2 linked regions of the Homo sapiens genome follow. The protein of the gene in region 1 interacts with the protein of each later gene in a pairwise test. Each region holds a gene or a part of one and is shown on either strand. Other genes may lie near its edges. The genes, in order: SCGB1A1 and GATM.

Region 1 (10,487 bases):
GCTCCATCTGCAGAAACAGGGAAAGCCAGGTCCCTCTGTGCCTGGGCACAGCTCACAGCTGGTTGTTGTGGGGGGAGTTGCCCACAGGATGCCACTTTGCAGCCCAGAAGGACATCCATATGCCGGGCAGACGGGAACATCTCTGCAGATTCTTAATATGCTGCTCACATCCTAGTTTGTGGGCCGAGTGACAACTGGGAAAGTGACCAAGATCCTGGTGGAAAATCAGAACAGTTGACAACCACACTCCCCCACCTCTCACACCTTCCCACTCCTGCTTCCCCAGGCCTGGCGTATTACCACCAACAACCACTCTGGAGTGGGAGCTGAAGGGCTCCCAGGCTAGGGAGAGTACCTACAAATGAAGAGTGGTCGCTCCTCTAAATCCAGGCACCTCTCCCACAGAAAGAGTCCCCAGGGCGGGAGGAGGCACACGCGTTGCTCTGTGGTTTGTAACAGCAGAAAAACTGGAAAAAAAAAAAAGTGCAAACGTCCATCAATAAGGCACTGGAAAATTAAATTACATTATATCCCTGCAAAGATGACATTACATCCATGAAAAGGGATATCCCACAGCATGAAAAAATCAAAGGTGTCCAGGCACGGTGGCTCATGCCTATAATCCCAGCACTTTGGGAGGCTAAGATGGGCTGATCACCTGAGGTCAGGAGTTCAAGACCAGCCTGGCCAACATGGTGAAACCCCGTCTCTACTAAAAATACAAAAAATTAGCCAAGCATGGTGGCGCCTGCCTGTAGTCTCAGCTACTTGGGAGGGTGAGGCAGGAGAATCACTTGAACCTGGGAGGCGGAGGTTACAAGTGAGCCGAGATCATACCACTGCACTCCAACCTGGATGACAAGAGTGAAACTCCATCTCAAAAAAAAAAAAAAAAAAAGAAAAGAAAAAGAAAATTAGCCGGATGTGGTGGCACACAACTGCAGTCCCAGCTACCCAAGAGATTGAGGCAGGAGGTTCCCTTGAGCCCAGAAGTTTGAGGCTACAGTGAGCCGTGATCACACCACTGCACTCCAGCCTAGGTGACAGAACAAGATCCTGTCTCAGAAAATAATAATAGGCCGGGCACGGTGGCTCACACCTGTAATCCCAGCACTTTGGAAGGCCGAGGCGGGCGGGTCACTTGAGGTCAGGAGTTCAAGACCAACCTAGCCAACATGGCGAAACCCCATCTCTACTAAACATACAAAAAATTAGCCAGGTGTGGTGGTGCATGCCTGTAGTCCCAGCTACTCAGGGGGCTGAGGCACGAGAATCGCTTGAACCTGGGAGGCAGAGGTTGCAGTGAGCCGAGATCATGCCATCATGCCACTGCACTCCAGCCTGGGTGACAGAGCGAGACTCTGTCTCAAAAAATAATAATAATAATAATTTTGACCCTAAAAACGGATTATGCATTTGGTACATATAATTTAAACTTTATTACATTTGCATACAACTACATAATAGTTGAACTAAAATGCAGTTTACTCGTTGAAATTGTTATCAATATCCATTAATTACAATTTTGAGATTTTCTTTTTGTGTTTTGCAGCCAGCAGATACATGACCATTTTTGAGGCCATCTAAAGGCTCACAGGCCCTAGGCATTGTGGCTGGTGGACAGAAAGGCTGGAATGTCCAGAGGTTGCCAGGCTCCTCCTAGGAGGTCCCTGGGTCAATCAATGCAGGCGTCAGCCCCAGGAGCTGCCAAGGCAGAAGAGAATGAACCAAACCCCTAAGGAAAAACCTACTCTGCTCAAGAGTTATTTCCTGAGCACTAGAAGAGCTGGATACTCAGGGTGGAGGGAGGAAGCTGACCTCTACGGCTTGCCCCGGGAGCTGACCCAAGCCCATGGCCCGACTAGTCCTCCCCCAGCAGCCCAGCCGGATGGATAGGCTCGGAACAGGCCGCCAACCTGTTGTCTGGGCCACGCTGGGACTTGCAGCCAGCCAGCTGCCAGCACACTGCACCCCAGCTTCCTGCTCATTACAATACACCAAGCACTGAACCTGGGGGCAAGCACCTGGCCTCAGCCAATGCCTTCTGGCAGTATGGGCTGGGGCTGCTGCTGGCCCAACCCCTCCCACCTGCCATTGCCACCAGACCTCTAGCTGGGGACATAGGCAGGGCTCCCCAAGGAGCACTGAACATGGCTCAACAACCTGGCACCCACATGTGCACCCACCATATCCCATACATGGAGGAGGGGCCAGCAGATCCAGGGCCTTGTAGTCCAAATACCCAGGAGAGGCTTCCAGGCCCCTTAGTACCCTCCCGCTTCTGGCTCTGGAGAGGCTCTTTCTCCTGCTCCATTCTCAAAGGCCAGAGCCAGGCCAAAGGTGCTCACGTCATCCCAGCTGGAGCCTGGGCAAGGGGTGAGCTCAGAGCAGGCTCCCCAGCCACTGCCCCAGCTGGAAGGTTCAGCCACCCAAGGACCAGGGCTCCCCCAGATCTAGGCACAGCCAACACAGGGTTTGGGGTGCAGGATTTGGCAGGAGCTGTTCCGATTCACTGCCATCCTCATGGTACTAATAGCCACATGGCTTATCTTCCCTCGGAACAGTTTGTCTTTGCACGGTGACCAGGTAGGTAACTGACCACATGTGGCCAGAAACAGCAGGTCCCAGTCCTCTCCACATGCTAAGTCAGGCTTGAGGGTTCTGGCCTGGAACTCACAGTGTATAGAGTTTAAGGATTTGAGGAGCAGGTGTTAGAGTTTAAGAAGTTCTGAGTTCTGGCCAGGCATGGTGACTCACGCCTATAATCCCAGCACTTGCGGAGGCCAAGGCGGGAGAATCACCTGAGGTCAGAATTTGGAGACCAGCCTGGCCAACATGGTGAAATCCCATCTTTATTAATAATACGAAAATTAACAGGGCGTGGTGACGCACGCCTATAATACCAGCTATTTGGGAGGCTGAGGCAGGAGAATCGTCTGAACTCGGGAGGTGGAGGTTGCAGTGAGCCGCTGAGATCGTGCCATTGCACTCCAGCCTACGCAACAAAAGCGAAACTCCGTTTCCAGAAAAAAAAAAAAAAAAGCTCTGAGTTCCAAGCCTTGACTAACACACTTTTTGCCTCACTATCTCAAGCAGAGGGTCAGAAGAGCAGGGGCTTTGCAGGGTCCTGAGGCAGGGGAGAGAAACACCCACCGCCACCAAGCAGGATCTCCCAAGGGCCAGATGGCAGAGCCTATCTGGGACACTTGGTGGTGGCAGTCGAGGTACCTTCCAGAATCAGAGCAAACCTCCAACCTCGCACCTGAAAGGCCAGTGCCCCCGGTGCCCCCAGACTCCCACTGTACCTGTGTGCTTATCTGTCCCATGCATGTCGGACCATGGCCAGGTCCCCTCCTGAGCCTGGGCCCCCTTCATGTGGCTTCCTCCTCCTGGCACATCCCCCGCTTCACCCCAACCACCAGCATCACCCATCCACCAGAGGCCAGCTCAAATGCCAGCCCTCCACGTGCCCTCTCCCCTCTGCCCAGCTACCTTTCTTGGGGCAGCCCCCTTTCTTTTTTTTTTTTTTTTTTTCCTTTTTTTTTGAGACGGAGTTTCGCTCTTGTTGCCCAGGCTGGAGTGCAGTGACGCGATCTCGGCTCACCGCAACCTCTGCCTCCCAGGTTCAAGCGATTCTTCTGCCTCAGCCTCCCAAGTAGCTGGGATTACAGGCAAGCACCACCACAAGCCCAGCCAATTTTGTATTTTTAGTACAGACAGGGTTTCTCCATGTTGTTCAGGCTGGTCTCGAACTCCCAACCTCAGGTGATCCGCCTGCCTTGGCCTCCCAAAGTGCTGGGATTACAGGCATGAGCCACCACGCCCAGCCTGGGGGCAGCCCCCTTTCAACTCCCGGAGCACCATTTCCTTCTCTGACTTCCTCCATCTCCCCACAGAGCATTCCCATCAGTTGCACCCATCTCTGTCTCTCCTCCTAGCTGTTAAGTTCCTCAAAGACCCAGGAGCCAGCTATCCTGTCCCCAGGACCTCGCACCATGAAGGTGGAAAGTAGAGAGCAGAGTCTGAGGCTATGGGTGATGTGACTCCTGCCTAAGACCCCTGCAGCCATCACAGCTGCCCCGGCCAGACCAGCCACTGCCCACAGAGGGATCCACTAGTGGCGGCACTGGATGGGCTTTAGGTGCCCCCAGTGGTCCAGCTCATCTTCCTTGCCCATTTCAGCTCCATTGGCCACAGCTTTCTTTTGTTTGTTTGTTTGTTTATTTATTTATTTATTTTTGAGATGGAGTTTCGCTCTTGTTGTCCAGGCTGGAGTGCAATGGTGTGATCTCGGCTCACTGCAACCTCCACCTCCTGGGCTCAAGTGATTCTCCTGCCTCAGCCTCCCAAGTAGCTGGGATTACAAGCACCTGCCACCACGCCCGGCTAATTTTTGTATTTTTAGTAGAGAGGGGGTTTCACCATGTTGGCCAGGCTGGTCTCAAACTCTCGACGACCTCAGTTGATCTGCCCTCCTCAGCCTCCCAAAGTGCTGGGGTTACAGGCAGGCTACACCTTTCAACAGTCCCTAAGAGGGGAGGGATGCAGACACCTGAAATCCTCAAGATGGGCTAACCTCAAGAGCCCAGATGATGGGACACAGAAGGAAACTTAAAAGAAAGAAGGCACTTCTGAGATGCTTTATGCAAATACAAGCAAATGCATATGTGGATTCTTTTTGCTTTTTTTTGAGACGGAGTCATGCTCTGTCACCAGGCTGGAGGTGCAGTGGCATGATCTCGGCTCACTGCAACCTCTGCCTCCTGGGCTCAAGTGATTCTCGTGCCTCAGCCTCCCGAGTAGCTGGGATTACAGGCAAGCGCCACCATACCCAGCTTTTTGTATTTTTTTAGTAGAGACGGGGTTTCACTATGTTGGCCAGGATGGTCTCAATCTGACCTTGTGATCCACCCGCCTCAGCCTCCCAAAGTGCTGGGATTACAGGCGTGAGCCACCGCGCCCAGCCTTCTCTTTGTTCTTTTTTGCTCTATTCATGCCTTGTTTTTCCCCCTTTGCAGTCTGCCTTGGAGATCATTTCACCATCAGCTCAGAAGATCTTCTTTCTCTGTTTTCAGCCACACAGCGTTTCATTGTAAGGACACACCATAACGTACTTGACAAGTCTTTGTTGGTTGCTAGTTTAGAACGTGTGCTCTTACCGGTGTTAAGGCGTCTCGGAGTGGGACGGTTCCGGGGTCACCACAGCCTTCAACTGTCACATGGCACAAAGGCCTCATGCATGGATTCATTCCAGGGATTCCTGTTTAGCAAGCGTTGCGTACCTTGGCTTACAGCGGCCTCAGCCCTAAAGGAGGTCAGTCAAGTAAAGGAGTCATACAAGAAAATAAGAATTGCAAAGTTAAAATATTGTATAATGGGCCCTGTAAGCAGAGGGGGAAGAGAGGCCCATGGGGAGAGTCACCACCCATCAGAACCACCTGTCGGGGAAGGCTTCACTCCCTATTTTCACCCCCAACCCTATTTTTCCCAAGTCTTCTCTGTGTCAGGAAATAACACCCCATTCCCCCAGCTGCCCAAGTCAGGGTCAGTTCATCAGGAAAGGGATATCAGACCATGTCACTCCCTGATTAAAACCTTCAAGAGCTTCCCACTCTGAGTGTAAAGGCCTTAGAACGAGGCCTTGTGTGCTCTGGCCCCTGAATGCCCCCTTTGCAGGCACAGCAACCCTTTCGAAGCCCTCAGGCACAATGGGGTCCTTCTTTTTTTTTTTTTTTTCTGAGACGGAGTTTTGCTCTTGTTGCCCAGGCTGGAGTGCAATGGCGTGATCTCAGCTCACCGCAATCTATGACTCCCAGATTCAAGCAATTCTCCTGCCTCAGCCTCCCAAGTAGCTGGGATTACAGGTGCCCACCACCACATCCAGCTAATTTTTGTATTTTTAGTAGAGACGGGGTTTCATCATGTCAGCCAGGCTGGTCTCAAACTCCTGACCTTAGGTGATCCACCTGCCTCAGCCTCCCAAAGTCCTGGGATTACAGGCATGAGCCACCCTGTCTGGCCTTTTATTTGTTTATTTATTTTTATTTATTTATTTATTTTTGAGGAGTTCTTGAAGTGCCACGCAATGCCTCTCCATGTCTATCTACCCCAGTTCCCGACTCCTAGCACCACATCTGGCACATCATAGGTGGTCAGCATTTATTGGATGAATGAATGGATCAATATTTGATTGAGTCTTGAAGTACGAATAGAATTTGGCGAAGTGGACAAGGCAGGAAATGTGTATTCAGGCATGAGGCTTAGCTTGTGCATAGGTAGAAAGGCATGAAAAAACATGGAACATTCTCGAATCCACAAATAGTAAGAGAGGGCTAAGTCGTTGTGTGGGGGAGAGGAGAAATGAAGTTCAAATGGTAGGCAAAGGTCAGTGGGCAAGGGCCTTGTAAATTGCACTTGAATTTTATTCTTTAGGCAAAAGGAAGAGTTTAAGGGTTTCAAGAAGAAGGACACGACCAGTGGGTTTTAGGAAGATCATTCTGATGGCCTTTCAGAGGATGGCTGAGGAGAGCTAGCAGGGAGGCAGGGAGGTCGAGTCAGGGGATTTTGACCAGGCCAGGTTAGGTGCTATGAGGCCCGGGCTTTGGAGAAGAACCAGGAAATGGCAACTGGAGGCAAGAAAGGGGAGAAGGCCAAAGCCTGGGAACCATCAACACTTAAGAACAGTAAAGAATAAACATCTAAAGAGAACAAGAAGGAATGGCCAGAAGAAGGAAAACAGGAAAGAACTGAGGCGTGGGAGCGCAAGAGAGAGAATGGTTCGAGAAGGAAGCAGTCACAGGTGTCAAGGCCATTGGGAGGTCAAGTGAGATAAGGACTGAAGGTCCCACCAATTGGGCCATCAGGAGCACAGGACTTGAGAGCACTTCTGGGTGGGAACAGACCCAGCCTGGGGCAGGGCTCAGGTTTCTGATGGGAATTCTGGAAGGGTCCCTTTTATTCAACATGCTTCAATCCAGGGGCCCCCGAAGTCTGACCACAGCAATGCTCCAAACCATGTGTCTTTCCTGGCTTAAGGTTCAGTCGCCCTCCTCAGAGGGGAGCCTATGAAAGAGCCCAGTGGAGTGTCAGGGTCCTGAGTCCTAGTCCTAGTCCTGTCCCTGCCACTTGTGAGGGAACTTGGGCCTCAGTTTCTCCAGGTGGGCTCCACAATTGCTTCTCTTGATCTGGACTGCCCCAGTGCCCAGGTTCAGTGAGTGACACAGGCAGCTGGGTTTCCACATCCTCTGACTTGGGTTCCCTTCACTGCCTCCAGGCAGGGCTCGGCCCTCCACCCCCAAGTGGCCCATTGTGTGAGCTCAGTTTCAGTGGGGACAGAAACTGGGTTGAGAAAAGGGAATATTTACCTATCCCACCAAGCCAATGCCAAGTAAATAGTGCAGTATCTTATGTAGAGCCCTTGCCCTGCCCTTCCCCATCTGGGTGCTGCTGCCTAGAGCATATAAAAGGCACCTTGCTGGGCATGTCTCATACTAGCCCACCAGACTCAGAGACGGAACCAGAGACGGGCCAGAGCATCCCCCTCCTCCACCATGAAACTCGCTGTCACCCTCACCCTGGTCACACTGGCTCTCTGCTGCAGCTCCGGTGAGTGCTCAGAGACCCTTCCCTCCCTCCTGGACTTAGGAACTCTCAGGACCCCCCAGTTCTGCTCAGAAGAAGGAGTGAGCTGCCCATTCCTGCTCTGGAGCTGCTGGGAGGACCTGGGCATGCTGAGTCTCAGAAAACTGGGTCTGGTGAGCAAGCTCATCTTGGAAACTTGGAGAGAGCCCCAGGCTGTAAGGAAGCCTAAAAAGGGTCCCATCTTCTATATCCAACAACCCTCAGAATCCCAGGGAATGGAATAGCCTGGAGGGAGGAGTGGAGAATACCCCATAAAGATGAGTACATCCAGCATAGGAATAATGAGGCCCTCATCCCAGATCTGGACAGACTCCAAGATGCTGAGACCTTGGTGCAGCCTCCAAGTCTGGGGTCTCCACTCCATGCTGGCAGCTGAAGTCACTGGAAGGGGAGCTGCAGGGACTCGTGACCCCAAAAGAAACCCAACCCAAGACAAGGTCTCTCATTCTGGGCACAGAGGAATATTCCAGAAAGAGAGCTTCCCTTTGGGGAACTGCCAACCCAGAGTGAAGTTTTCTAAACATTTCCGTCCTCTGCAAAAGGGATTAGGAGTCTCTGAGTAGTTGCTGCTGTCACTAAAAGGAAAAGAACTGTGGGGGGAAGAGGGGCAGAAAGAGAGACGGAGAGAGGGGGAGAAAGGAAGGAAAGAAGGATCACAGCTCTCTCCAAGATCCCCCGTCTTTGGGGAACTGGGTTATCTAACTCTGTTTTTCACTCTGCGTCAGCCTCTTCCATTCTCATCTGAAAATGCTGTTGTTATTTTTTAATAAACAAACTCCAATTAATTCACTTGGAAAGCTTCACAACACCCATGGAGATAAGTTTTATGACCCTGGGGAGTTAGAAAACCCAAACCAAGAAGCAGTAGGAACAACTATTTTGCAGAGAGGTTTATTTGTTTTTCAGAGAAAATGACATCATTTTGGACTGAAATGTGTATTAATTAGAAGATCTCAGTGCTGTCTGCGTACAGAGGTGGGTGGCTGAGCAAGATAGGACTGCAACATGTTAAGGGGTGGGTCAGAGATGCATTTGTCTATTTGTGTGCACATGCATACAATATTTAACACTTACTTCACACAATGTGCCAATCACTGTCACCCTTTCACATAATATCTCTTTTCATTCTTTTTTTTTTTTTTTTTTGAGACAGAGTCTCGCTCTGTTGCCAGGCTGGAGTGCAGTGGCGCGATCTCAGCTCACTGCAACCTCCGCCTCCCGGGTTCAAGCGATTCTCCTGCCTCAGCCTCCCAAGTAGGTGGGATTACAGGCACGCACCACTGCACCCAGCTAATTTTTGTATTTTTAGTAGAGACAGGGTTTCACCATGTTGGCCAGGATGGTCTCCATCTCTTGACCTCGTGATCCACCCACCTAGGCCTCCCAAAGTGCTGGGATTAGGCGTGAGCCACCATGCCTGGCCTCTCTTTTTATTCTTACAACAACCCTATGAAGTAGGGATATTGGGCCAGGCACGGTGGCTCACGCCTGTAATCCCAGCAATTTGGGAGGCCGAGGTGGGTAGATCACTTGAGGTCAGGAGTTCAGGACCAACCTGGCCAACATGGTGAAACCTTGTCTCTATTAAAAATACAAAAATTAGCCAGGCATGGTGGCGCATGCCTGTAGTCCCAGCTACTTGGGAGGCCGAGGCAGGAGAATCACTTGAACCTGGGAGGCAGAGGTTGCAGTCAGCCGAGATGGCATCACTGCACTCCAGCCTGGGCAATAGAGCGAGACTCCGTCTGAAAACAAATAAATAAATAAAAATAAAATTTAAATTAAATTAAAATTTAAAAAATAAAAAATAAAATGAAGTAGGGATATTGTTCCCATTTTACAGATGAGAAAACTGAGCTACAGAAACACAGAGTGACTTGCCTGGTGACACAGTAAGTTACACATCAAGGACCTAAGTTCTGGAGAGGGTCTGACTTGGAGTGGCAATTTCTAGTGAGGCCCTAGAGTCAGAGGAGGGAAGGCAAATTTGTTCAGAAGGCAGAGAATTCAAGGAAAAGGGATTTGAGACTCACTGGGAAGATGGAGGCAAGCAGTGGGTAGAAAATGGTGACTTTCCCCCATGTTCCTGGTTGTAAGGACCTGAGAAGAAAACAGAGTCTGGAAGCTCTGTGTTGAAGGGAATGAAGTGGTACAAGTGGCTGCTCTGTCCATGAGCTGAGTGTGCCACAGGGCCCGCTGTGCACATGTGCACACCTCTTCCCGGCCAGGTTCGGGGGCCCATGTTTGGCTGGTACAATCTCAATGGCTTCTTTTCTTTTCTTTTCTTTTCTTCTTTTTCTTTTCTCTTGCTTGCTTGCTTGCTTGCTTGCTTGCTTGCTTTTTGAGACAGAATCTCGCTCTGTTGCCCAGGCTGGAGTGCAGTGACGAGATCTCAGCTCACTGCAACTTCTGCTTCCTGGATTCAAGTGATTCTCCTGCCTCAGCCTCCTGAGTAGCTAGGATTACGGGTGCCCAGAACCACGCCCGGCTAATTTTTTGTATTTTTAGTAGAGACGGGGTTTCACCATGTTGGCCAGGCTGGTCTCGAACTCCTGACCTCGTGATCTGCCTGCCTCGGCCTCCCAAAGTGCTGGGATTACAGGTGTGAGCCACCGTGCCTGGCTTACAATCGCTTTTTCCTGCCAGAGCCTGAATTTGTCACATGCCCCCAGTGAAGCATGGCTCAGGGCATCTCTAACCACTGATGAGAGGCAAGTTTCTGGTGGGAAATAAAACCCTCAGTGGCCTCTTCCCAGCCTCCACACTGCATTAAAAAATCAGGCCAGCAGCTTCTATGATCAATACTCTGCCTTGATCTCCAACAGAAAGAAAAACGGCACCTTGCT
Region 2 (10,138 bases), on another chromosome or scaffold:
GATAAACAAGAGGGTTAAAAAAATTATCTGTAATCCCACTACCCACCTACACACTGTTAACGTCTTGGTTTATGCTGTTCTAAAGGGGTTTAAGTGGCAATGTTATGCTGGATTTTTACTCCATCTCCACTTCCTCCTCTCTGTAAGTACTGATAGAGCAATGCAATACAATAATCTTTTCTTTGTTCTTGGAAGCTTGGACGAACCTTGACAGGATGGGTGCAGCGAACTTTCCAGAGCACCCAGGCAGCTACGGCTTCCTCCCGGAACTCCTGTGCAGCTGACGACAAAGCCACTGAGCCTCTGCCCAAGGACTGCCCTGTCTCTTCTTACAACGAATGGGACCCCTTAGAGGAAGTGATAGTGGGCAGAGCAGAAAACGCCTGTGTTCCACCGTTCACCATCGAGGTGAAGGTAAAGGAAGGCTATTCACATGTCTGAAAGTGCGCTCCCTCCTCACCTGCTGCTGCTACCCTCTGACTGCTTTCCCTTCAGCTTACTCCCAGACCTCTCAATCCAGTGATTAAGTTATCTTACTTGACACCTCTGTGGTATTTGACACTATTTACACCAATGATAATTGCTTCCTTCCTGAAGAGCTTCCTGAAGCTCTTCCCTTGGATTCTGAGAGAGCTTTTCTGGGAATAATAGTTCTTTCACTGTCCTCAGATCTTCTTCCGTCACAGCCTGTAATGGCAAGGTTGAACAGAATATTACTTTCAGCCCCCTTCTCTTAGCCATTCTCACAGCTACCGCTCCCACCTCCTCTCTGGTCCGGATCTCTGTATTGAACTCCTTCCAGATCAACGAGTTAAACTCCTTACGGGATATTGCCACAGGACTTCAAACTTGGCACATCTGGAGTTCAGTTGCCAGCCACCTGCTCAAGTGGATCCCTCCTCATTCCTGCCTTTTAATTATTGGCATTCCTATTTAATCAAGCTAAAACACAAAAGAATCATCTTTGATTTCTCCTTATGTCACGTGATGTAACAAGGCTTTTGTCAAAAATGAATCTTGCCTCATTCCTCTGCTTTGCCTCTCCCTAAAGGTTGGGAGCTCATCTGCTGCCTGGACTATTGCAGTTAACTCCTAACTGGTCACTCCTACTCACTCTTCTCACCAAATCACCTGGCAGCTGCAATCCAAGTGATTTTTTAAAACTCAGATGTGATCATGTTACTCATCCTGCTTCTTTTCCTCCTGTACTTTGCTAGGCGACCCCCACTACCCCACCACCCCCCGCATTGTTTAGGATAAAGTCTTCATGGTATTCAAGATCCTTCACAATCTGACTCTTGTCTGCATTTCCAGGATTCCCCATTCCAGTTATTGACTCATCTGTTAGTACAGCAGATTAGCAGGTGTTCATTTCTGGTCAAGTCCCTCTATCCTCTAATATTCCACCCTGGTTTTCAGCAGACTTTATAAGACAACCATATAAGGCAGCTAAGCTAGACTACTCACTGTTTCTTCACAAGCCCTGCATCTTTGCCCCTACCTAAGTCTCTTCCATCCATCTTCCTGTGCCCTTTAGTCTGTAGTTTAAACCTACCACCACCTAGCTTCAATGACACCTTTCACAAAGTCTTCCAGGATTTCCCTGGCAACAAGTAATATCTCTCTTTTTAAAAACTCCTAGTGGTGGCCAGGCGCGGTGGCTCACACCTGTAATCCCAACACTTTGGGAGGCTGAGGCGGGTGGATCACGAGGTCAGGAGATCGAGACCATCCTGGCTAACACGGTGAAACCCCGTCTCCACTAAAAATACAAAAATTAGCCAGGCGTGGTGGCGGGTGCCTGTAGTCCCAGCTACTTGGGAGGCTGAGGCAGGAGAATGGCATGAACCCAGGAGGCAGAGGTTGCCGTGAGCTGAGATGGCGCCATTACACTCCAGCCTGAGCAACAGAGTGAGACTCCATCTCAAAAACAAACAAACAAACAAAAACTCCTAGTGGTTTTTATCTGTAACGTTCTTATATCCAGGGCCTCTATGGGCTGGTGTTCAGGTTCTATACTGCATAAGGATTCCATATCTAAGGGACCACTTTCCACATTGTAGACACAGCCTAGACTCCTATTAATAATGGGTTACAAATGTATCTTTAGTGTCCTTAAATTTTTCCTGAATATTTACACTTTTATTTGTAAAGTGGATTGAGGAAAGAAGTTCTGTAACAGCATTGTCGTGGTCTTCAGAAATATTGCCTACCATGTACCAGGGCTCTAGAGGTATTAATATAAAAGATCTTCCTTTCTATTTGAAGAGATTTGATGTTCACATAGAAACGAAGACCAAGTATCTTATTCCAGTCGACTGACAAGGCAGTTGAAGTGCCAGGAAAGAGGAATGACCAAGGGCTGGCCAGTTAAGAAGTCCTCTTGAAGAAAATGACTCCTGAGTTAGACTTGGAAGACAGGGAAATAGAAAAAGTAATAACTTCTAATTGTTCTGAAACTATCTTTGGTTCTGATATTTGGAATTTGATGAGAAGATTAATTTATACACCATCCACATGTTTTTAAAAGGCATAGTAGTCTTTTTAAGTCTTTTCTTGAAAAGTCCCATCCCCTAACCATTTTAATTGGGTGAAATTAAAATTTAAATCCAAGCAATAATTTATCCTTCTACTTGTCTTTAAAATGATAGACTTTCATATCATGCGATTTTACAGAATCAGAATTCTCAGAGGTAATTTTGAGTTCTTTGTCACTTGATTTATGACTTTAGACTTTGTCATTTCATGGACTTGTGGAAAAAGTACCATGCTGAAGTCAGGAGTCTGGGATTAATTAGGTATTTGATAAAAACTTGATAGCTAGTCTCGGTTACTTAGCTATTTGACCTTGTACAAGATTCCACAAATTTCTGGGCCACAGTAAAATGAAGATATTAAGAGGTTTGCTAGTTTGCTATCTACCTAACAGGATTAAGGATTAATCTAAAGATAAAAGGTTACATGTTAAGTATTTTAAAGGACAACACAACAACTTATTATAGTTGTATGGATCCAGTTTGCCAATTACATTCCAAAGGTACTTTGTCGGTGTAATAGTTGTAGATATCAGTAACATTAGCAGTATTGATTTCATTCGTCTGGTTCTTTTTGTTTGTTTATTCTTCTTTCTCTTTCTCTCTTTGATTCTAGACAGGAAATAATGGTTATTTCTGTTTCATGCCATGTGCTAAGCCTGGTTTTGAGGGAGAAGAAAGTAAATCTAAGACATGCATGGATCCTAGCAAGCAAGGCCATGCCTCGTAGTAGAGAAGAATGACACATATATTAATCAGTTTGGGAACAATAAAAGAAAAAATAATGTAGTAAACTGTCCATAGGCAATCAGAGCAGAAGATGTTGGAAGATATAAGTACTAGAGAAATTTTAAGGAAAGGAATGTGGAACATAATTGTTGGGAAGCATAATTTTTTAAAGCTCTGTGACTTTTTGTTCTGCAAAATATAGTAAATATCTGCTATCAAATATATATATATATAGATATATATTTTTTTAAGATGGAATCTCGCTGTCTCGCCCAGGCTGGAGTGCAGTGGCGTGAGCTCGGCTCGCTGCAAGCTCCGCCTCCTGGGTTCATGCCATTCTCCCACCTCAGCCTCCCAAGTAGCTGGGACTACAGGTGTCCCCCACCAGGCCTGGCTAATTTGTTTTTTTTGTATTTTTAGTAGAGACGGGGTTTCACCGTGTTAGCCAGGATGGTCTCGATCTCCTGACCTCGTGATCCACACGCCTTGGCCTCCCAAAGTGCTGGGATTGCAGGGGTGAGCCACCGTGCCCAGCCTCAAATATGTTTTTTGTTTTGCTTTTGTCTTTTAAAAATAAAGCCCTTGATAAAGGACCTTTTATAAAATACAAGATTAATCAAGATTAGTGTAATATAAGCTTACAGCTGGATAAATACATTTCTGTTGTCATTTCTTAGCCTTCCAAAGACAGTATTTAAAAATTCACTTGGCAAACCTTTGTAAAGGGTTTTAGGCTTTGAAAGAATATAAAGGTTCAAGGAATGCAGACATACCTTTGCAACAGATTATTAAAAGCATCATATGCTAAGCGTCTAATATAGTGTTCATCATCTTGCAAACAACTTGGTGAATGATTGCTGGCTCATTTAGCAGGGTTATAAAGGAAGTGTAAACAATTTCTAGCTATCTCTTGTAAAACGTATTGTGCCCTGATCATTTGTACTTTGCCCAACCTTTGCCAGATTATAAACTCTACAAGAAAAAATCACATTTGTTCAAATAACCTTTTTCTCCCAGGAAGGTTTAATTTATCAAGGCAAGCTTCACCCTGCACAAATAGTCACGGAGGATACTTTGGAATGAGTCTGGCAAGACAGCATAACTCTGCATCTGCTGTAACCCAGTGTTAAATTTTCAAAGGCTTCTTGTCCCTAGTGGATTGTAGGAGATGTGCCTGGCATGAGAAGGAGGAAGTGGTGAATGGATGAGTAGTACCAGCATGTATCTGAGAGGAATATAAAGAGTCATTATTATCCTCTTTCTGGTTGCTGTTGCAGAAATTCCTAGGAGTAGAAAACAGTGGAGTGCTTTTATTTTGTTTTTTGAAAGGGTAGCTTGGTCTTTAAAAATGTTTAATGATGATAACATTTTTCATTAGTCCAGAAATTCAGCCTGCTGTTTGCCTATAGACCTTAGTAAAAGAGCTAATTAATGATTCAGACCCCAGGCGTCAGCAAACTTCATCTTTCTACCAGATAATAAGTAATTTAGGCTTTGCAGACCATCGGTCTCTGTTGCAACTACTCAACTCTCAGCTGTGCCATTGTAGTGCAAAAGCAGCCATAGACAATACGTAAACAAATGAATGTGCCTGCGTTCCTGTAAAACTTTATTTACAAAAACAAGCAGCAGGCCAAATTTGCCTATGGACCTTTTTTTACCAGCCTCTGTTTAAGACTTTCACTGGCATCATTCAGTTTTTCTAAAGACCTGTTTCTTGGCTTATTCCTTATTCACCAAGCTAGGTTCCAGCGTAACTGATGTGAACCTGGATATTGAACTAACCAGAGATGGGTCCACTTTCATATATTTGATATTTGTCAGACTGAGATAAAAATGGAAGTCGAGACACAAAATCTAGAAAAGATATTGTTTTTGACATTAAAGAGCTAAACATCTAGACATTTGATCAGTCTTGATGAGTAAAAGCCATTGGGACAATTTGAACTTGTTAAGCAATTCCAGTCTTAAAAGTTTTTGCACATCTAGTTAGAAGTGTTCAAACCAGTATAACATGGCCAAGTCCCATGATGTATTAGGGACACTCTTTGAGTAACAGTCAGAGAACTTGAGTTCTAGTCCTGCTTGTCCAGATAGCTAGCAAGCATGTGACCTGCCAGAGCCTCTTTCCTTACATGTGAAATAAGCATATGAGAACTTGCCCTGTTTCTTTGATAGGATTGCTGGGAAACCAAATGAGAATATCCAGCTAAAGTAGACACACTGTGACACACTTGAGCCCATTACCAAGTTTTACACCTTTCTAGTACTTATTGCTATCTGAAATTATCTGATTTATGGTGGAGACTGTCATATCTGACATGATCAGGACTAGTAGTTTGTCAGTTCATCAATTATATAAATAAACATTTTTAAAATACCTGCTTTAACCAGTTTTAAACAAAAATTTAAATTAAAACACTTAAAACATTTTTAAACTTAAAATATATCAATGTACATTGCTTTGCTAATCTTTTGATGAAGGTTCAAGGCTTTTTCTTAGAGTCTGGATTCTCTGATTGGCGTTCTGCTTCATTTAGCTTGAAAAATGGGAAGATGCATCACGTACATTTCTCAATGTATTTATGATTGAGAAATTGACTAAGAACTTAGACATTTGGAAAACAATCTGAATGCAGAATCTGTCTAGATTTTTACATTTTTGAAAACCAATATTTTGGCCGGGCATGGTGGCTCACACCTATAATCCCAGCCCTTTGGGGGGCCGACGCGGGTGGATCACGAGGTCAGGAGATTGAGACCAGCCTGGCCAACATGGTGAAACCCTGTCTCTACTAAAAATACAAAAAATTAGCCGGGCGTGGTGGCATGCGCCTGTAATCCCAGTTACTCAGGGAGTTGAGGCAGGAGAATCATTTGAACCTGGTGGGAGGCGGAGGTTGCAGTGAGCTGAGATGGTGCCATTGCACTCCTGTCTGGGCAACAGAGTGAGACTCCATCTCAAAAACAAAAACAAACAAACAACAATATTTAACAGCTGTTGCACCTACCCTATTCAACAATAATTTTTAGCAAACTGATTGAGCCATTTTAAAGCATTCAAATGTTTTCTCTTTAGTTGTCTTCTAAAATACACATAGCCCTGGAAACTTTCTAAATTTTTTTTCAGTTATTAAAAATTTGTGAATTTGCTTATCATATCACTTCCTTGTATGACAAAAAGACTTGAAGAGATGTGAGAGCTGAATGGATTAGAAAAAGGAGAGGTGTGGTTGGTATGAGGCATATTGACAGGGAATTACCAAAGGCAGATTTGCACTGTCACACAATTTTGGCAAGTGTTAATTCTGTTGAATGGGAAAATCAATAATGTTTTTTTTTTTCTTTTTCTTTTTCTTTTTCTTTTTTTTTTTTTGAGACAGAGTCTCGCTTTGTCACCCAGGCTGGAGTGCAGTGGCACGATCTCAGCTCACTGCAACCTCTGCCTCCTGGGTTCAAGCAATTCTCCTGCCTTGGCCTCTGAAGTAGCTGTGACTACAGGCACGTGCCACCATGCCTGGCTAATTTTTGAATTTTTAGTAGAAATGGGGTTTCCCCATGTTGGCCAGGCTGGTCTTGAACTCCTGACATCAAGCTATCTGCCCGCCTCAGCCTCCCAAAGTGCTGGGGTTACAGGCTGAGCAACCATGCCTGGCCAATAATGGGGTTTTAAGAGAAATAAAGCATATTTGAAAGTATGCTCCTGATCTTAACGGGGCAAAATATCTTTTTTTTTCCCTTCACAAAATATCTTGAGGTGCTATTTTCTAGACAGAATTCTGAGATGCATGGATAGCCCATGGTTTTGGCTTAGTATAAGTGCTTTTATTCTCTTATGCTAGTTTGTGTGTTCTCTTGTTTCATTTTATTGAGGCTCTCTAATAGAAGTGCTATGTCCTGTTTTGTCTGCAAAGCATGGCAAAAAAACTGGCCAAGAGGATTCCAAGTCTGTCTGAAGGTAAACATGCTGTTAGTGGTTGGCCATGAGATCTCAGGCAGGAGGAGCAAAAGGCCTCAAAATATCAAGATGTTTTAGAGTTCTTCATTCAACAGATACTGAGTGTCTGCCCAGAGGGCTTATGTGCTCAATGCTAGGGATCAGCACTGAACATGGAGTGGTTGGAGTCTCAATTCCAATACCTTATACAAAGAGCTGTTTACTGCCTATGAACCTATCATGAGCTGTATTTTTCTCCTGTAAGTATTGTGTTTATTTGCTTCTACTTCCAGGCCAACACATATGAAAAGTACTGGCCATTTTACCAGAAGCAAGGAGGGCATTATTTTCCCAAAGATCATTTGAAAAAGGCTGTTGCTGAAATTGAAGAAATGTGCAATATTTTAAAAACGGAAGGAGTGACAGTAAGGAGGCCTGACCCCATTGACTGGTCATTGAAGTATAAAACTCCTGATTTTGAGTCTACGGGTAAGTGATGTCAGATAACTAAACTGCCAGTGTCTGAATTTTCAATTTCTTTCTTAATGTGTAAGGGGAAAGCTCCAAAAAATTTCTTGGAGAGTCCTTTGCTTTGCTAGTTCTTGAAAACTTTAAAGATTTATTTAGGAATGGTTTGGTCCATGTTGATATGATTAAGATGTATACATTCTAAACTCCATTCCATCTCGTGGAATCTCCTTGAAATGACAAGTTTTCCTAAACTTTATAGCCATTTCCTTACATAATAACAGTGGATTCGTTTAATTTTCCTCAAGAACAGAAATTAAAAGGGGAATAGAAACATTTCCATTTTATTTTTAACTGACATTGCTGCATGACTGTTCTTGTGCCTTAGGTCACTGTTCTAATTTCTAGTTTTAGATTGATCCTTGGCTCAATTTTTATCTTGTGATACCGATAGTCCTTTAAGAGCTGTGTTTCTGTATAGCAAGAAAGGAGCTTACAAATGGTGAAAGCTTGGTGGTTCAAGATCTCTTTGTACAAGGACTTTATTCCTTCACTTTTTTTTCTTTTCTTTTTTTTCTGGGCTTCCCCCCCACCACACAATTCATGTTAACAATCTAGTATGTGTTATTCGAATTTTTTGCTATTTTCATATATATATACACACATGTATTTCTAGCAATTTTTTTAACCAAAAAAAGAGGTAATATTATATAGACATTTTTTGTTTGTTTGTTTGAGACAGAGTCTCACTCTGTCGCCCAGGCTGGAGTGTGGTGGCACAATCTCGGCTCACTGCAGCCTTTGCCTCTTGGTTCAAGTGATTCTCCTGCCTCAGTCTCCCGAGTAGCTAGGATTACAGGCACGTGCCACCATGCCTGGCTAATTGTTTTCGTATTCTTTTAGTAGAGATGGGGCTTGACCATGTTGGCCAGGCTGCTCTTGAAGAGGATCAAGTGATCCGCCCGTCTTGGCCTCCCAAAGTGGTGGGATTACAGGCATGAGCCACTGTGCCTGGCCCTATATAGACCTTTTTTGTCTTGGAAATTAACACTACTGAAGTTGTCATGGAATTTTTTGGTCTGACAGGTTTATACAGTGCAATGCCTCGAGACATCCTGATAGTTGTGGGCAATGAGATTATCGAGGCTCCCATGGCATGGCGTTCACGCTTCTTTGAGTACCGAGCGTACAGGTCAATTATCAAAGACTACTTCCACCGTGGCGCCAAGTGGACAACAGCTCCTAAGCCCACAATGGCTGATGAGCTTTATAACCAGGTGAGTCCCTAATTATAGGCTAGCTTATTACTAACTTTTCTAAATGATCCACAAAGAGTAAGATAGAGATTCTCTGATACCTTGTATATATTATGCATTTTAGAAACCGAAAACATCATCTTATTTTTAAAAAGTGATTATTTTATGATGAATATGATAAGAGTAAATGATCCTATGATAATAATAATAATGGCTAACACTTTTTGGTGCTTACCTTGTTCTGGGTCCTGGGTTAAACCCTTTATTTACATCCTCAATCCTGTTTGTTTTTCACAACAACCCTAATCATACTGTAGTATCATTCCATTAGATGGGGAAAAACTTGCCTACAGGTGTACCACTGTTCATTAGTGGAACCAGAAAAGTCACTAGACTGAAGTTCACTTTCTTCTTCTAGAAAAAGAACCTGATCTACAGTTCAAATTCACAGTAAAATGAAATGTATGTCCCTTATTAAATCAGTTACCATTTGATCTTTTATAGAAAAAAATTTAAAAATCAAAATAGCTTCTGGGTTTAAAGACAGAAATAAATAATGAATTAGTTTTGCCACTCCCAATCAAATTTGGCAGGGGAAACATGGCATCTCGTTTTATGGTATGAGTTAAGCTCGGGACCAAATTCCTTTTCTAAAAGAACAGAATGACTTCATCCTGTTTACTTTCCGTACGGTTCATGGAATATTCTCAGAATCAGTTACTGCCTCTGTATCACTTTTTTTTTTTTTTTGAGATGGAGTCTTGCTCTGTCACCCAGACTGGAGTGCAGTGGCGTGATCTCGGCTCACTGCAGCCTCTGCCTCCCGGGTTCCAGCAATTCTCCTGCCTCAGCCTCCTGGGTAGCTGGGATTACAGGTGCATGCCACCATGCCTGACGAATTTTTGTATTTTTAGTAGAAACGGGGTTTCACCATGTTGGCCAGGCTGGTCTCGAACTCCTGACCTCAGGTGATCCACCTGCCTTGGCCTCCCAAAGTGCTGGGATTACAGGCATGAGCCATCTCACCTGGTGTGTACCATTTTTTTCTAAGTACATAGTGCCCCTTCATCCTCAGGGGATATGTTCCAGACTCTCAGTGGATGCTGATACTGAACTCTATATATTTTGTTTTTTCCTGTACATATATACATACCTATGATAAAGTTTAATTTACAAATTAGGCACAGTAAGAGCCTAACAACAATAATGAATAA

What was found.
Region 2: the proteins of SCGB1A1 (region 1) and GATM interact in binary tests that used the Homo sapiens proteins (3 or more experiments, as listed by UniProt).

What each region holds. Positions count from the first base shown.
Region 1 is NC_000011.10:62,411,546-62,422,032, forward strand, and holds the start of SCGB1A1 (uteroglobin precursor), read left to right. Parts: upstream 1-7,487; 5' UTR 7,488-7,550; coding exon 7,551-7,605; intron 7,606-10,487. UniProt on the Homo sapiens protein: Binds phosphatidylcholine, phosphatidylinositol, polychlorinated biphenyls (PCB) and weakly progesterone, potent inhibitor of phospholipase A2.
Region 2 is NC_000015.10:45,366,877-45,377,014, reverse strand, and holds part of GATM (glycine amidinotransferase, mitochondrial isoform 1 precursor), read left to right. Parts: intron 1-195; coding exon 196-414; intron 415-7,493; coding exon 7,494-7,689; intron 7,690-8,754; coding exon 8,755-8,945; intron 8,946-10,138. UniProt on the Homo sapiens protein: Transamidinase that catalyzes the transfer of the amidino group of L-arginine onto the amino moiety of acceptor metabolites such as glycine, beta-alanine, gamma-aminobutyric acid (GABA) and taurine yielding the corresponding guanidine derivatives.